2 linked regions of the Homo sapiens genome follow. The protein of the gene in region 1 interacts with the protein of each later gene in a biochemical or structural test. Each region holds a gene or a part of one and is shown on either strand. Other genes may lie near its edges. The genes, in order: JAG2 and NOTCH3.

Region 1 (3,811 bases):
TGTCCCTGGTCCTGCAGGCCTCAGCTCCCACCACTGGTCTGCTCTGCCGCCCCTCGCCTGCTGGTGTCACTTGCCGGCCGCTCGCCGCCCACCCCCTCCCCATGGGCAGGGTTACCGTGTCCTCTGCCCATGCCCCATCTCTGGGTGGCTTGCAGCCTCCGGGTCTCTGCCCCTCGGTGACGTGACTGTCCAGCCAGCCTCCCCAGTCTCTCCTCACTGTCCTCACATGGCTGCCGCCATCAGACACATCCCATGCTCAGACACGCACCTACTGCACTAAGGAGCCTCCCGAGCTCAGGGCCCGGCTCTCACAGCTGTGTGCCCAACCTCCAGCCAGCTCCGGGCGACTCCTGACAGCAAGGCTGTGTGTGCCAGTGAGGACGTGAGGGCAAAGGTTGGGAGGGCAAAGACGGGCCGGCGGCACACTCACCTGCACTCCCCAGGCACGGTGCATCCCCCGTGGAGCAAATTACACCCTTGTTTACACACAGCTGCGAACAGAGAGGAGCGAGAGGCACAGCTGCAGCCAGCCTGGCCGCAAGGCCTGTGCCCGGGGCCCTGCCCGAGGCCCTCCCTGCCCTCCACGCAGCCCAGCGGCCCCCTCACCTTCCTTGCACTCCTTGCCCATCCAGCCGTCCATGCAGGCCTTGTTGCCGTACTGGTCGCAGGTGTAGTGGCCGAAAAAGTCGTTGCGGGGCCGGCAGAACTTGTTGCAAGTGGCGCTGTAGTAGTTCTCGTCGCAGCGCACGCGGATCTGCAGCTCCAGGTGCGCCACGTGGCCGCTGAAGTGCAGGCTCTTCCAGCGGTCCTCCGGGTTGATCATGCCGGCATGCGACACTCGCTCGATCAGCAGCTCCTCTTGGGGAGGCGGCAGAGTCAGCACAGGCCAGAGAAACCAGCCCGGCCAGGGGTCCTCCAGGAACAACGGGGACGGGGCAGAAGCCTGCGGCTGCTGCAAGGCCGGGGCACAGCAGGCAGCAGCACACGGAGGGCAGGGCCCCCGGCCAGGCTGCTACAGAAAGCTCAGGGCCCCGAGAGGCCTCTCCCTCCCGCCACCAAGCCTGCGCCCCGCTCCCACCCTAAACGCAGAGGGTCGGGGGGCCCGGCTAGGGGCTAGGGGCCCTGCAGGGAGGGCTGCTGAGACCACAGGCTCCACAGAGAAGGCACGGCTGCTGCCAGGGCGTGAGTCTCACGTCCCACACCTGTGCCCACCCACCTGCAGCCCTGCTCCAACACCTGCACCCACCTGCGCCGTGTCCAGCCCTCGACAGCACGGACATGGTGCTCAGTTGCCCTCCCCTCTCCTGCGCTGTGACTTGCTCCCAGAAGTGCCAAACACCACTACCGTCCCCACCTTAAGACAAGCCTCCCCTCAGGCCCCCAAGACAGGCATAGGTCCCGTGACCCGCTGTCTAAGCCTCACTTTAAGTAAGCCACCAGGAGACCAGGGGCCAGGGGCACCACAGCTGCTGGCGCTGGTATGCAAAGTCCGTGATGCCGGTCCCTGCGCTTAGGCACAGGCTCGACGTTTTGCACAATAAAAGGTGAACGGGTCCTCCAGACCCCACCTCTCCCGCCTCGGGCCAAGGCCTGGGAGGACACTGTGCTGGCCCACTCCCCAAGGGGCGTCCCGGCCGCCCCAGCCTCTCCAGGCTCACGTTGTCAAGAGCCCTGACGACCTTGCTTGGGACTCAGCCCACCTGTCTCTCTGCCACCCCCTCAGGAAACACCCCTGCCCTGAGCCGCTGGGGTCCCCACAACTGCTGCTCCCCACCTGGGCACCCCCACCGCCGTCCCTGCCCTGAAAACAGCCCCTCCACTCTGCTGGCAGCCAGGATGCCCTGGCCCCGCTCTCCCTCCTCCAACCCATTGGCCAACCCCATGCCTCCACTTCTGAGAGCCCCTCTCACCCCCAGACTGCCCCTGGTCCAAGTCACCCTGACACGCCCAGATTCACGTGGCAGCTCCTCCTCGGTCTGTGTCCTGGCCCCACAGCCCACCCTCCATAAGGCAGCCACAGCTTGCCAGGCGGAGCCCGTGTCCTCTCAGTGGCTTGCCAGCCTCCATGATCTGAGCCCAGCCCCGGCTGCTCCCCCTGCACAGCCAGCCCGCTCCTGCCCAGACCTTCACACGAGCTGCTCCCTTGGCCTGTGGGTGCTTCTGCATTCACCCATGGAAGTCATCCCGTTACCCCTGCAGGGCCCTGCAGAGCCCCTGCCTCAGGGAGAGGGCCACCAAGGCTCCATGCTCCAGTACAGACAAGCAGAGGGGGCCACAAAGCCAGAGACACACTCAAGGGTGTCCCCTCCACTAAGTCACTGCCATGGGCCCCAAAAGAGCACACCCAAGAGGAGAACAACATAGGCAAAGCCAGGACTGGGGAAGAGAGTGCATGCACAGCTCTGCAAGTCCCAAACGTGGCAGAGCTTCCTGGCAGCCAAAGCAAAAAGGGAAACAGCACACATGATCCTCAGGGTAAAGCAAGGCTTTGTCCCAAGCAGACAGAGGAGCTGGGCCCTGCCACAGGCACGCTGAAGCTGAGAGGAGCTGCCACCTGGCCCAGGGCTCACTCACCATTCGGGGTGGTATCGTTGTCCCAGTCCCAGGCCTCCACGATGAGGGTAAAGGAGCGCTGCAGACATGGGGAGGCGGGTCAGGTACCTGAGGCCACACCTGCCTGCCTCGTTCAGGGTGGGACAAGGCCCAGGGCTCAGACGCTGCCCCTGGGTCTGCCAGGCTCTGGCCCTTCCTCCCCAGCCAGGGACCCACCACCCTCCTCATCCTCAGGCCACATCCTCTGCAGACCCAAAAATGACCCAGCTCAAGGGAGGGAGACTGCCCCTCCAGGCCACGCGGGCTCAGGGGCCTGGGCTCCCTACCGTTGGGGTGCCAGAGGCCCAGCCTGCCCTGAGCTGGCTCAAGTCAGCACGGAGCACAGGAAGAGCGACCGGGGGGAGAGGTGGGCAAAGGGCAGCCTGGCTGGAGTGGCCACAGACAGGGGCCCCATGGGCAGCCGGGACCCGAGCGTTTCCTGTGGAACGCCCCTTGGTGCCTCACTGGGGGTGACCACGGGGGAGAACGTGGGGCCCCATCACCACGCTGGCGGCCTCCACCAAGTGCACGGGGTGGCCAAGTACAGGGCGCCCAGCCAGAGGCCCCAACAGGCCGGAGCTCAGGTCCTGCAGGCATACAGCACACAGGCAAACCCACACCTACCTCCACCCTCACACAGAACAGGTGGCAGGAGGGGCCCTTGCGGTACAGTTGGGGAAACTGAGGCCAAGAGGTCCTGGGACTGCCCAGCACAGCCTCAGACCATGGCCACTATGCCCCCTCTGCCCCCGGGCCACCTGGCCCTTGTACCCCAGCCATGGCGACAGGCGATGCTGTCAGCCAAGCAAAGAGACCACAGGGCTGGCCCCCTGCTCCGCCTAGTGCAGCCCACGGAGACCGTCACTCACAGACATGCTCAGACAGGTGGGACCCCCGGGACATGCCCTGTACTACCCAGCACTGGGTACCCACATTCCACAGCCTCTCAGCCCTCACTGCCCAGGAACCCCCCAGTCTACCCCTGGTGTGCTCTTGACCCCTGAGCCCAGCCCTGGCTCCTTCCAGGTGGGGCCCAGAGGAGGGGGCTGGGGCTGAGTCACCTCAGGGCCTGCTGGCTTCCCACCCCGGGGGGATGCTGCGTTGGGCAGTGTCCAGGCAGGCCAGGCTCACTCCATCCCTCAGCACACCCCATCCAACCAGCCCCAAGGCCTGGCTAAGCTGGGGAAAACCACACTTCCCCAGCAAGGCCCAACCCCAC
Region 2 (2,540 bases), on another chromosome or scaffold:
GGCATGGAGGTGGACACCTGTAATCCCAGCTACTTGGGAGACTGAGGCAGGAGAATTGCTTGAACCCGGAGGCGGGGGATGCAGTGAGCCGAGATTGTGCCATTGCACTCCAGCCTGGGTGACAAGAACAAGACTCTATCTTAAAAAAAAAAAAAAAAAAAGGAAGAAAGTAAAAGAAAAATCAATCACAATACTAGGAGTTTCTCTCTTCCCTGGAAGGAGCAATATGGCACCTATTTTGATAACACAGAGAGAAGGCTGGAGCTGTGTGATGTCGGGAAGAGAGGTTCTACTGGGTGCCATGTGGAGCATGTAGATGAAACTGATGCCCAGAGAAAGCTGTAGAGATGAAGAGAAACTGAGCCATTGTTGACCACATTTGAGCCACTAGATCAATTCTCCCCTGAAGTAGGTCCTTTTAATTTATATGAGCTAATAAACCCCTTTCTTGTTTAAGCCAGTAGACTTTTGTGTCATTTGCAACCAGGAGCACTCCAACTGACAGAATCAACGAACATTAAATCCTATCCTCCTTTCCTGAAGACACCAGTGTAAACAGAACCTTGTCTTGGAGCACGACTGGTTGCGAGTAACAGAAACCCACCGAAGCTGGCACAAGTAAAGAAGTATTTATTACATGGGTCCAAGGTTATCTCCAAAACCCATAGGAGCATGAAGTAAAAGTGAAATTCATGCAGAACCATGATCAGATACTTAGAAAGCAATTAATAAATACCTGTTGATCTCAATGGAATGAACACTCAATTAACTGGAATTGATAACTGCACTGGGAGCCGAGATAACCCCCCCAGCCCTCAAGGAGCCATTTGAGCTCTCATTTCTGATTCTCCCTGAATATTAGCTTCATTCTTCTGCCCTGTTTGCTTGTCTCTTTGCCCACCACCTCGAATTGGCCACTGATATTTCTAAATCTGATTGTGACCTTAAGAGCTCCACCAACTGACAACTTTCTTAGCCTCTCCATTAAAGAAAGTTCTCGAGCAAAAGAATCTGATTGGCTCAGCTTAAGTCAGGTGACAACCACTAATCCAATCGGTAGTCATCTGCCAAAAGAGGAAGCATAAGTAGACTGGCAAGTCAAATGTATTTACCCCAAGATGGGAGCTCAAGTTAGCCCTGGGTGGGGGAGATAGAAGTCCCACTGCCACCACTCCCCACCTTACCTAGACACAGACCAACAACACTGAGTGTTAACTATTCCTTTATTAGGTGGTGAGGGGAGTGGGGGGCTGTACAATGCAGGGCTTGGGAATTCAGCTACACAGGGATTTTGACCAGAAGCCATATTACAAAAATAGCCTAAAAATACCTCTATTCTGCCATGAGGCTGGGCCAGAGGATTACCAGGAAGAGAAAGTACCACTCAGGCAGCTCCTCTTCTTGTAGTCCCACATTTACAGGGACACAAAGGAATGCATACATCTGCCCTGGCTCCCATTTCCCACCAGCAGCCCCCTAGTTCCCAAAGGGAGATGGCCAAGGGTGGGGCTGGGGCAGAGGGAGTTGGCAGTGGGCCCTTCCCCAGCAAGGCTATGGAACATGTCCCATCTGGAATGCAGTGAAGTGAGGGAGGTGGGGTGGGGAGGAGGCTCCCAACACTCCCCCGACCCCTGGCCCCAGTGGGTGCGCCCAAGGGTGCCTACTTGGTACATACCTGGGTCGTGTACTCGGTACACGGGATCCCAGTCATGCCTGTGTACTAGGTACACAGAATCCAGCTTGGCCGAATGGGCCCACAGACTCAGCCCCACGGGGGCACTGGGGGGTTCACAGGGGGAGGGAGCATCTCCATATATATATTTTGTAAAAAATAATAATAATAAGTTTGTTTAAATGAATTTGTTTCTATACAAAATGTAAAAAAAAAAAGAAAAATAAAAATAATAATAATTCATTCATGTCAGAGTGTAAGGAAATGAGAGGCCAGAAGGAGAGAGAAAGGAATGAGGGAAGAGAGAAGTGGGGAAGAAGGAGGTCCCAGACTCTTCACAAGACTGAGAGGGTGGGTGGTAGCCCCCACCCATTATAAATAAAGGAAGACTGAAGCCCTGGGCTGATGACCTATCTCGGTCACGCTGCAAGGCAAGGATGCAGGAGGGTTGGTGGAAAGAGAAGAGGATGAAAAAGACTAAAAGGAAGGAAGAGACAGAGAAAGAAAGGAGGCAGGACGGGGGTCTCTTTAGGCCCCCAAGATCTAAGAACTGACGAGCGTCTCAGGCCAACACTTGCCTCTTGGGGGTAACTTCCGGCTGGGGCCCCAGCTGGGTCTGGGCCTGAGCAAGGGAGCTGGGAACAGACAAGGGAAGTGGCTGGGCAGGCAGTGCCCCAGTGGTGGTGGCCATGGCCCCAGTGGCAGTGGCTGGGCTAGGCGTGGATTCGGACCAGTCTGAGAGGGAGGGAGGTGAGGGGCTGGCCCAGTGCTCAGGGGATTCGGGGGATGGGGTCAGGTAAGGGTGCTCACTGGGAACCCGCAGGAAGCGGGCCTTTGGGGGGCTGCTGTGTGCCCCAGCCGCCGGGTA

What was found.
Region 2: the proteins of JAG2 (region 1) and NOTCH3 form a complex in vitro, tested with the Homo sapiens proteins (one study listed by BioGRID).

What each region holds. Positions count from the first base shown.
Region 1 is NC_000014.9:105,155,132-105,158,942, forward strand, and holds part of JAG2 (protein jagged-2 isoform a precursor), read right to left. Parts: intron 2,633-3,811; coding exon 2,575-2,632; intron 859-2,574; coding exon 607-858; intron 492-606; coding exon 431-491; intron 1-430. UniProt on the Homo sapiens protein: Putative Notch ligand involved in the mediation of Notch signaling. Involved in limb development.
Region 2 is NC_000019.10:15,158,428-15,160,967, forward strand, and holds the end of NOTCH3 (neurogenic locus notch homolog protein 3 precursor), read right to left. Parts: coding exon 2,235-2,540; 3' UTR 611-2,234; downstream 1-610. UniProt on the Homo sapiens protein: Functions as a receptor for membrane-bound ligands Jagged1, Jagged2 and Delta1 to regulate cell-fate determination.